2 separate regions of the Homo sapiens genome follow, and region 1 is linked to region 2. The links come from fine-mapping of genetic effects on gene expression. A gene starts in region 2. The other region holds a variant in brackets. All regions are shown on one strand. Distances are between the middles of the regions. Region 1 overlaps LINC01150 (long intergenic non-protein coding RNA 1150). Region 2 holds the start of MRPL23-AS1 (MRPL23 antisense RNA 1).

What was found. PIP is the estimated chance that this variant, and not a neighbour inherited with it, causes the effect. A credible set is the group of variants that fine-mapping cannot tell apart.
Region 1: its variant is the best candidate, but not a certain one, in a credible set for the expression of MRPL23-AS1 in cerebellar hemisphere (GTEx, PIP 0.74).

The regions. Positions count from the first base shown.
Region 1 is chr11:1,903,413-1,908,775 of GRCh38, forward strand. It overlaps LINC01150 (long intergenic non-protein coding RNA 1150), which reads left to right. Exons shown (of 4, transcript NR_120534.1): 4 at 4,420-4,947. It also overlaps a transcript of PRR33 not described here. Among named protein-coding and RNA genes, the nearest start is that of LINC01150, 9.3 kb to the left of the region's middle. RefSeq lists enhancers at 3,075-3,576, 3,577-4,076. The variant T/C (reference allele first, on the strand shown) is at 3,147.
Region 2 is chr11:1,987,226-1,992,588 of GRCh38, forward strand. MRPL23-AS1 (MRPL23 antisense RNA 1) reads right to left here and starts at 2,695. Exons shown (of 4, transcript NR_024471.1): 1 at 2,601-2,695. It overlaps LINC01219 (long intergenic non-protein coding RNA 1219), which reads left to right and starts at 3,871. Exons shown (of 3, transcript NR_126400.1): 1 at 3,871-4,034; 2 at 4,713-5,055. It also overlaps a transcript of MRPL23 not described here. RefSeq lists enhancers at 1-4,584, 1-519, 514-4,584.

The DNA of each region.
Region 1 (5,363 bases), 84 kb before region 2:
TGGAATTACAGGCATGGGCCACCTTGCCAGGCCTCATTTGCCTTTTGTGCAGACACTTTTAAAAGAGGGAGTAAAAATACTGAAATCATTTTAGAAGCTTCTTCACATCAATTGGCATCCCTGATGAGGCTAATTAGGAGCCCTTGTTTTTAGGTGCACTTCTTAAAGTGCAGTGGTGTTCACTTGGAACATCCCACCGTAATTTTCATTCACCTTTAGTAAGATGCCACCATTTCTGTAAACATCTGCCGCGTCCGGGACCTAACACGTACGGACATACGAGCCAGAAGGTGCTCGGTTTTTCAGAGATGAAGGATCCCATTTTACATTAAATCTTGGCTTTGGCTCTTAGATCCTCGTGATCAACTGAGCAATGATTTTTCCCTGCCTTAGTGTGCAAGAAAAAGAAACCAAGAGAGTAGAACACGAACATCCTTGTGAATGTCCAAAAGCTGGAGTGTGCACCTCCTGCAGCCCTGCCATTTACAGCCAGTTTCCGCCTGACCCAGTCAAGACACACAAGGCCTCTAACTGCATCCAAGCCAGTGAATGATCAAATCAGATTCCATCCTGGACCCAGTCCAGTTTCTGTCACGACTTCTGAACCCAGCTTAGATAAAAAAATTTGCTCAAGCAAACTCAGATGGCTCAAAACACACATCCATGGAGCTTTGGAATCCAAGAGAGAACTTCCCACGATCCCCAGCTGCTCTGAGAGAGCAGAGGGCACAGTGGGCCCTGTGGGTCCTCCATTGGTCAGTCAGAGCTCCTGGGGGCCGCTGGAAGCTCTACGCCAGATCCACTTCTGATGCCATCCGTTTAAAGAGAAAACTTGGCCGGGCGCAGTGGCTCACGCCTGTAATCCCAGCACTTTGGGAGGCCGAGGCGGGTGGATTGCCTGAGCTCAGGAGTTCAAAACCAGCCTGGGCAACACGGTGAAACCCCGTCTCTACTAAAATACAAAAAATTAGCCAGGCATGGTGGTGCATGCCTGTAATCCCAGCTACTCCAGAGACTGAAGCAGGAGAATTGCTTGAACCTGGTAGGCGGAGGTTGCAGTGAGCAGAGGTGGCACCACTGCACTCCAGCCTGGGCGACAGAGCAAGACTCTATCTCAAAAAAGAAAAAAAAAAGAAGAAATTTAAGGCCAGGTGCAATGGCTTACATCTGTACACCTGTAATTTCAGCACTTTGGGAGGCTGAGGCAGGTGGATCACTTGAGGCCAGGAATTCGAGACCAGCGTGCCACCACACCCAGCTAATTTTTGCATTTTTAGTACAGATGGGGGTCTCACTATGTTGGGCAGGCTAGTCTCGAACTCCTGACCTCAGGTGATCCACCCACCTCAGCCTCCCAAAGTGCTGGGATTACAGGCGAGAGCCACTGCGCCCAGCCTCTTTATTCTTTTAATCTCTGCAGAACCTGTACTCCCGCTGCCTCTCTTGTTCCTGATATCGGTAATTTCTATCCTTCTCCTCCTTTCCCCGGGCCCTTCCCCATCAAGTTGGCTAAAGGTTTATCAGGATTACTGATATTCTTAAAGAACCAAGTTTTGGTTTTCTCAATTTTGTTCTATTATTTATTGTTTTCTGTTTTATCAGCTTCTACTTGATGTTTACTATTTCCTTTCTTCTGCCCACTTTGGGTTTAATTTGCTTTTCTTTTTCTATTTTCCTTAAGCTGAGAGCAAGGTCATTGCTTGAGAATTCTTTTTTTTTTTTTTTTTTTTTGGAGACCGAGTCTTGCTCTGTCACCCAGGCTGGAGTGCAGTGGCGCGATCTCAGCTCACTGCAACGTCTGTCTCCCAGGTTCAAGTAATTCTCCCTGACTCAGCCTCCCGAGTAGCTGGGATTACAGGCACACGCCACCACACCTAGCTAATTTTTAAATTTTAATAGAAACAGGTTTTCGCCATGTTGGCCAGGCTACTCTCGAACTCCTGACCTCAGGTGATCCGTCTGCCTCAGGCTCCCAAAGTGCTGGGATTACAGGCGTGAGCCACCGCGCCCGGCCTTCTCTCTTTTTTTTTTTTTTTTTTTTTCTGAGACAGAGTGTCGCTCTGTCGCCCAGGCTGGAGTACAGTGGCGTGATCTCAGCTCACTGCAACCTCCGCCTTCTGGGTTCAAACGATCCTCGTGCCTCAGCCTCTCTAGTAGCTGGGATTATAGGCGTGTGCCACCACGCCTGGCTAATTTTTGTATTTTTGGTAGAGACGGGGTTTCTACCAAACCCTGGTAGAAATGTTGCCCAGGGTGTTCTTGACCTCGTGGGCTCAAGCAATCCTACCACCTTGGGCTCCCAAGGTGCTGGGATTACAGGTGTGAGCCACCACACCTGGCCAGTTAAACCATATTTCTTACAGGCAGCACAGAGTTGGGCTTTGCTTTTTTATCAATCAGACAACCTCTGCTTTCTTTTTGTGGGGGGGACAGGGTCTCACTGGCATCCAGGCTCGAGTGTATTGGTGCAATCACAGCTCATGGCAGCCTTGACCTCCAGGGCTCAAGGGATCCACCTGCCTCAGCCTCCCGAGTAGCTGTGACTACTGGCACATGCCACCACGCCCAGCTAAAGTATTTTTTTTTTTTTTTTTGGAGAGATGAGTTCTCCCTCTGTTGCCCAGGCTGGTCTTGAACTCCTGGACTCAAGGGATCCTCCTCTACCAGCCTCTAAAAGTGCTGGGATTACAGGAGTGAGCCACCATGCATGGCCCCTCTGCTTCTTAATAGGGGAGTTTAGCCCATTGATATTTAATGTGCTTACTGGTATGGTTAGGTTAGAGTCTGTCACCTTGTTATTTGCTTTCTATTTGTCACATCTGTTCTTTTCTCCCCTTTACTCTTTTTCTGCCTCCTTTTGCGTTCATGAGAAGTTTTATTCGTTACATCATCTTGTTTGCTGGCTTTTTCGCTGTAACTCTTTGTTTTGTTATTTTAGGGGTTGACTTGGGTTTTTAGTTGTTAGCTTTAACGTCCCACAGTTGGCTCTGAGTGACTGATATTTCCTCTTTTTTATGGGTCACCCTTTCCTGCTTCTTTGTCTTTTTGATAATTTTTTATTGGAATGCAGACATTGTAAACTTTAACTCGGGTGGGAGCTAGATACTTTTATATTTCCACAAATATTCCTGAGCTTTGTTCTGGAA[T/C]GTAGCTGTTTATCTGCAAGCAGTTTGATCCTTTCAAGTATTACTTTTACCGTTTGTAAGGGAGGTCTGGAATAGTGTGGGCTAACTATTCCCCACTATGGAGGCAAGCTGTTTCTGAGCCCCCCACCGCTGTGCGTGATAGGGTTTTCTGCTGAGGCTGGTGGGAGCAGACACAATTCCTAGGTCCATGTGAGCTCCCGGCACTGGTCTCTCTAGTCCTTTCGGATTGTGCTTTCCCGCCTTGGGACGTTTTCCCTGGGATGTGCTGATGGCTCAGTCCCTAATACTCCAGGGGGACTCTCGGGTCTCAGCTTCTCTCTCTGGGCAGCTCTCTGAGCTTCACGAACTTCAGCTGCCTGGAGACCCCCAGCTCTGTCTCATCAGCTCAGGGACTCTGTGGGCTCCACCTCAACTCCCGCTTCCCGCACTGAGGCCTGGAAACCCACCAGAAAGTGCATGGGCAGCGAGAGGCCCCTGAGGCCAATTCCCAGCCCGGGAAGCACTGTTGTGCACGGCCCACGTGTGGGATCTTGAGAGCCATTGTGTTGTGTATTTTGTCTGTTCTGTGTTGCTGTTTGGTTGTTTCATTGTCCTGTGTATTTTGTCTGTTCTGTGTTGCTGTTTGGTTGTTTCAGGCAGGAAGATAAATCCAGTCCCTGCTACCCCATCTCAGCCAGGAGTGGAAATCTGCCTTTTAATTTTGGTGGACATGTTTGGATAGACAGAAACTTGAAATGGTGAAGTGGTGAAATGGGCTGAGCTGCCCTTTTCTTCCATCATGTTTCCACTGTTCTAAAGCTGGAAACATTGTTCCCCAGCATGAAAGCAGATAAGTGTGCAGCACACATCTCTCTAGCTTATTTATCTATTCGAGATGGAGTCTCGCTCTGTTGTCCAGGCTGGAGTGCAGTGGCGCAATCTTGGCTCACTGCAACCTCGGCCTCCAGGGTTCAAGTGATTCTCCTGCCTAAGCCTCCCCAGTAGTTGGGATTACAGACTCCCGCCACCATGCCCGGCTTATTTTTTTATATTTTTAGTAGAGACAGGGTTTTGCCATGTTGGCCAGGCACGTCTCGAACTCCTAACCTCAGGTGATCCAACCGCCCCGGCCTCCCAAAGTGCTGGGATAACAAGCGTGAGCCACCGCGCCCGGCCTCTAGCTTTATTTTTAACCATTTTTTTTTTCACATGTCGTAGCCTCTGTAATTCACCTGGAATGTATTTTGGCATTTGATGTGGAGAGCAAATCTCACTGCCTTTTTTTCCTCCCCAGTGCATACCTGATTTTCTCGACCTCTTTTATGAAATATCCCCGCCAGACTCCCTCGACCGTGCCACCCCCAGGTTCCCGTGCATACACAACATTGCGGGATAGGTATTGTGGAATGAGGATCCGTGTTACGACCTACAGAAGATGTGGCTGTGAAGTCAGGAGTCACGGTCTCAGAGTTGACTGCACTGCCTCGTAGCTGTGTGACCTTCAGGATTTTGTTCAACCCCCTCTGAGCTTCAGTTTGCTCTCTGGGAAGACTCCAAGGATAAGAGCATCTACCTCCTCAGCCTGCTGTGAGAGTTAACAGGGCCAGGGCCAAAGACGCTTTGTCTGACTGCTGGTCTGCGGGGAGCTCTAAATATGAATCTGCTACATCACCTTCACTTTTGAATTCGGCTCTGATGTTCCAAATGTTCTTGGCCGTTCCTTCGTGTTTCTCCTGTACGAATTTCAGCTTCTTTTTGCCAAGTATCTCCCCACCCCCGCCCACCCCCACCCCCAAATAAACTCACTAGAATGTTGGCTGAAAATCTGATAAGGCTACACATTGATTTGGAAAGAAATGATTTTTTGTGAGAGTCAAACTCCCTACCCATTTTTTTTCTTTTGTTTTTTCAAAAGTTTTTTTCTTACATTTGTCATTCAAGTTTGTCATTTTCTTGCTACAGATTCCAAACACTTTTCAAGAGGACCGTCGCTAAGTACTTTATACTCTTGTTTGGGTTTTTTTAGAGTAAAAAATGTTCAAATTCTACTTTATCTTCTAGCTGGTGGTTGTTGGAAGATAATTTTAAAAACTGATTTAAAATATGTATTTTGCATCTGGCCGCGTTCCTGAATTCTCTCATTCTTTCTGAAAACTCTTCCGCCGACTCTCTGGGGGCTCCTAGGAATGTGCTGTTTTGGCTCCTCCTTTCCAGAACTTATACGTCTCATTTCCGCCT
Region 2 (5,363 bases):
CTGGGCTGGGCTGGGCTGGGGTGGGCAGGGCTGAGCTGGGCAGGGCAGGGCAGGGCTGGGCTGGGCAGGGCTGGGCAGGGCAGGGCAGGGCTGAGCTGGGTAGGGCAGGGATGAGCTGGGCTGGGCAGGGCTGGGAAGGTCAGGGCTGGGAAGGGCAGGGCAGGGCAGGGCAGGGCTGGGCTGGGCTGGGCTGGGCAGGGCAGGACAGGGCTGGGCTGGGTAGGGCAGGGATGAGCTGGGCTGGGCAGGGCTGGGAAGGGCAGGGCTGGGCTGGACTGGGCTGGACTGGGCAGGGCTGGGCAGGGCCGGGTGGAGTGGGCGATGGTGTCCATCCCGCTTAGTGGCTTCCTCTCACAGGAAGTCTGACCACCCTTCAATGCTGGGGGTCTAGGCTGGGCAGGTGGACGTGGGGGTCCATTTCTAGGCTCTAGACCCAAGGCCTTCCTGCTGCTCAGAGGTTCCTAGGCTCAGCAGAGAGGGCGGGGACAGAAGGTCCGAAATTCCATGTCCTTGGGATCCCATCTGCCCGTCCTTCCCGCCCAGCCCAGCCCAGTCTGTCTGCTCCCCAGCCTCCCACGCCCCCCATTGGCGTGCATGAGTGACATGCGTGTCCCGCACACCCTCGGTCCTGTTGTCCATCTCCCCCATCGCCCGCACACCCTCGGTCCTGTTGTCCATCTCCCCCATCGCCCGCACACCCTCGGTCCTGTTGTCCATCTCCCCCGTCGCCCGCCACCCACGCCGTCCCCACTGCCTTAGGCTGGCTGCCCCTTTGGACAGGGGCTTTGTCTACCCAAGTCACAGGACACGTGAAATTCAGCCTTAATTAAGTTGTTGGGTGATGGAGTCCCAGATGTGGGAGGCTCAGCCAGACCCTCTTGGGCTGCCCACCCGGAGAGCGACTGGGGCTGAGAGCCTCGCCTGGGGCCACTGTGCAGCTGCCGCCTCCCGCCTCCCACCTCCCGCAAAGGCCTGGGAGTGGGGCCCAAGGCAGCTGCAGCCCCACAGCCTGGCCTTGACCCTGGGCTGCCCCACAGCCCCCCTGCTGGCTCCGTGCCCACTGGGAAAACAAGCTCCTTATCTCGAATGCTTCCTGTGAACTGCAAACAGCCACGTGTCCCTTGGGAGCCACTCTTGATGAACGTGCCCTCTGTCCCACGACCCAGGGTGAGGCCGTTCACCCTCGGGCTGGGGGCCACCGGGACTGGAGGCTCTAGGCCTGGAATGAGGGGAGGGGACCTGCGGCAGGGCAGAGCCAGGCTGGAGACCACTGCATTGGGAGGGTGAGGAGGGAGAGGAGGGGGCAGGAGGGTTTGGGTCCAAGGCCTGGTTGCACAGGACAGCTGGGGATGGGGGAGAGGGGCACAGGCCAGAAAGGCTGGGGCTGCGGGGGCTAGCTAAGAGGCGAGGGTTCTGGGTGGCAGCAGCAGGCAGGGACCTTCCCGGCGGCCCCAGTGGCTCCCTCCCTCCCAGAACCCTTTCTCCTTCCTTGGGCCTAGAGCTTCCTCCACGTACTTTTCCCCGCCCCCGCCTTTCCCCTCTCTCTCACCCCGCTCAAACATGCTGTGACCTTTCCAGGGCCCCTGGACATCACTCACTGGGTGACAGAGGTTGACAGGCATGGAGCTAAGGAATGGGAGGCAGGGCGGGGGCGGCCAAGCCTCTCCAGCCGCTCCCTTCCCGCTTGCCCCACAGACGGGCCTCCCTGGATGGTCCTGGGTCAGCACACACGCTCCCAGGCGCTTCCTTCCCCAGGAGACAGTCCCCAGCCCCTGGCGGCCCAGATCCTCCTGCTCAGGCCGACGCATCCCACCTGGGCCCCAGAAACCTCTTTGGAAAGGGACAGTCACCTCAGAGTGGCAAGCACTTAAAAGAGACCCCCAACAGGCCGGTGTGTCGTGGTGGCAGGCAGGGTGTGTCTGGAGAGAAGGGGGACGTGTCCCCAGCTGGGCCTGGGGGCGGCTCCGTGGGAAAGTCCCACCTGGTCCCAGCCCCGGGTCTCCAGCCTTCAGACTCCTTGGGGGTCTCTGTGGCCTGGCAGAGGTCGGTGGCCCCTCAGTGGAGGTGAGGCCTCTCCTGGGTCACCACCGCACACCGGCCTGCTGGGAAGCTGGGGTTCTGGGCCACAGCCGGCCCTGGACGTGGAGGGGGGCATCAGGCCAGACCCCCCAGGGGCTCACAGGGCTCTGGGAGGCCCTGGCAACCCCAGGGTGCCCCCAAGCCCTCAGAAGGGTTGTCCCTACTTGGAGGGGACCACACAGCCAGGTGGGCAGGAACAGGCACCACGGCGGCCCTTCCCTGTCCACCCTCTCACCAGTGGCCCGCAGTGCAGTCCAGGAAGCACCGGACAGAGCACGGGGCAGGGAGGGGAGGCCCGTACTGGCTTCACAGAGGTCTGGGAGGGGCTAGCCCCTGTGCAGACAGACCCCTGAAGCCTAGAGCCGCCGGCCCAGCTGAGGTCCTTCCCAGGGGCCATTCTGGGACCCCTGACCCCATGCACCTGTGTCACAGGGCTATGAGCGCCCCCAGCCCCAGGACCTCCACGTTTCTCTCTAGAGGGAAGAGGAGGAGGACGGCAGGCCTGCTGGCCCCACACTTACTGGTTGGGGACGCTCAGAGGGGGCAGCCGCCATGCCGGGAAGTTAGGGTGGGCAGAGGAGCAGCGGTGCCAGGACCCCCAGGCCATGCTGCCACCCCGGACCCTGAACAGTGGGCTAGTGTGTGGGCCTGGGGAGTGAGGGCCCAGGCCGGGCTGGGTCTCGCTCCATAAACCCTGGCTGGCCGGAGCTGCAGACATCACTGTTGACACAGGGGTGATGTCACTGCCGGCCAATGGGGAGACCCTCGGGGGCCCTACGTGTGCCTCTCTGTGCTCCCAGGGCCCCCGCCACGCACGCCGCCTGCTCTGAATGCTGCCTGCATAAACCGGTTTTTCTAAATGTCTTTGGGGCCCTGCTTGCCCCCTGGGCCCCATCTCCTGCTCATCCCACCCCACCCTTGGGCCCAGCCTATGAGCCAAGCGGGAGTGGGGAGTGGCGGAGAGCCCTGGGCCTGCCCGCTCCCACAGGCATGTGGGCCCCAGAGCCCTGACCCCTGCACCTTCACCTCGCCAGCCTCTCTCCCATCTGCCACGACCCCAGCTGCCACCATGGCTCCCCACAGTCACCCCTGGGCCGTCTCTTCCTCCTGTCGGGAGAATGTTCCTCCTGGGAGAGCCTGAGGCCCCCTCTCTGCTCCTTGCTCCCCCGTCTGTCTCCCCTGCCCTGCCTTGCAGCCCTGCCCTGGGTCCATATGCTCAGAGCTGGCTACATATCCTGTGGCTGCCCATGACACATAGCTCCCCCAGGCAGGGCCGGACCCCGGGCACCTCTTTGCCTCCAGGGCCGGCCCCACTCTGTTGGAGGTCAGCCGGTTCCGAGGCCTCCAAGCCGCCTTTCTACTTCTCGATTCCAGGGCCTGGTCTCCACTCCCTCTGGGCTTTGGGGTGCATGCTGCAGTGCAGCCTCCCCGCGCCCCGGCCTCCATGCACCCTGCTCGTGCTGCCTCAGAGGCTTGGCATCTCCCCCATCTTCCAGCCAGGCAGCCAGTTTTCTGCAACGTGGGGCCCACGGTCAGCGTCCCCCACAGCCCTGCCAGCCCTTCTCCCCGGGGGTCCGCCCTGCACCCCCTTCCCAGGAGCTTGCTCTGCACCCACTGCTGGGCCTCCTGGCCTAGGGGCTTGGCACGTGCCTGTGAGCAGAGGCGCTGGGCAGGAGGAGGAGGAGGAGCCTGCAGTGCCTGGCGCCCGTGTGTGTTTACTGGTCCGGCCCCAGCCCCGCGCCGCTCCCCGCGGACCCGGCCTCCCGCCTGTGTCCAGCCAGGTGTTGGGTGATGGAGCGGGGCTCCCTAAGGACAAGGAGCACAGTGTCTGCTTTCTTTGCAAGCACAGTGCTGACAAGGAACAGAATACCCACAGCGACTGCTTCCAGGAAACGGCTGCAGGGCGGGCGGGAGCCTCTGCGAGAGCAGCCCCTTCCCAGCAAGCCGGCCTGCAGGTGGGCTTCCAGGAAGGGGCCCCCGCTGGCTTCCCTCAGCCCTGGAAGGGGGCCAACGGTGTCACCAGGAGCAGGCCAGGGAGCGGGGTAGAGGGGGGAGAAAGAGAAAGGAGAGGCGCGGAGGAGGGAAGGAGGGACGGGGCGCAGGCCTATGCTATGCCTAGTGTGGTTACCACAGCCTTAAGGGAGAGCAAGGCTGACCACAGCTCCTTCTCGAACCTTCCAATCCCCCTTTTGAGAAGTCACAAGATCTCCACTCAGGTCTTTGGCTCTCTGGGGCTTGTCAGGCATCACACACACACACACACACACACACACACACACACACACCCGTGCACACCCATCTGAAAACACAAGCAAGCTGGGCCACTGGGGGAGACCATTCCCTGAGACCCAGCCGGGGTCCAGGTTGAGGGGCTGACCTCCTGGCCCCCATGTTGGGAGGGCCGAGGAGGGCCCCCGCCCGGACCCACTGCGCCCTTGGCTCTGAGTGCTCAGATCCCACCCCCATCTCTAGAGAGGAGGAAATCATTTATCTTCCTGGGAGCTCGGGGTCGGGGAGAGGGGGCTGCCCTCCTTGAGTCCCCGACTGTTTTCTTTGAGACTTCCCAGGGTGCATTGTAGTCAGACCCAAAACATCGCTTTGTCCCTGTTGAAGGGACTTCACTTCCTTCGTAGAGTTGGGATTTTCTGTCTCCATTCGGTGGTATACCAAGTGCCTGCCTCCCACACCCAGCTGCCCCTAATCCCTGCCTGAAAACGTGCTCCTGGGTCACGGAATTCATGCTGAGACACAGCCACACACAGCCAGGCTCAGGGGTCCACCCTCCAGGGAACACCACCCCGCTACAGGGCCACGATCACACACACACCCCGCGGAGCATCTCCGGGCCGGACAGGACCCACGCCCTCCACAGCCCGGAAAGGCGGGTTAACTGGTCAGCATGCAGAGACCCACCAAGTGGAGACCCCGCTCCCAGGCACAGACGCACAGCTGTGGATGCACGTCCTCGGTGACAAGGTAGCTGAGGTCGCGTGCCCCGGGTGTGTACGGCCCACAGAGCCACAGGGGACTCGCCAGGAGATGCGTGCACCGAGGGTCCAGCGTGGCCACAGCAGCAGCACGCGCCTCAAGTCCTCTTCTCTAACTGGATGACTTGGTCTTCACTCAACCTAAACGTGCCGCAGAAACTTGGGTGGGTGGAGGGTCTGGGTGTGAAGACCTCGGTGCCTAACAGGGTCTGGGACGTGGCCAGAAGCCAGGGCACCCTCAGGGTCTCCCTGAACGGTGGAAGTTCCTCCCTCCCCAGATTTCCTGGCACCTTTGCA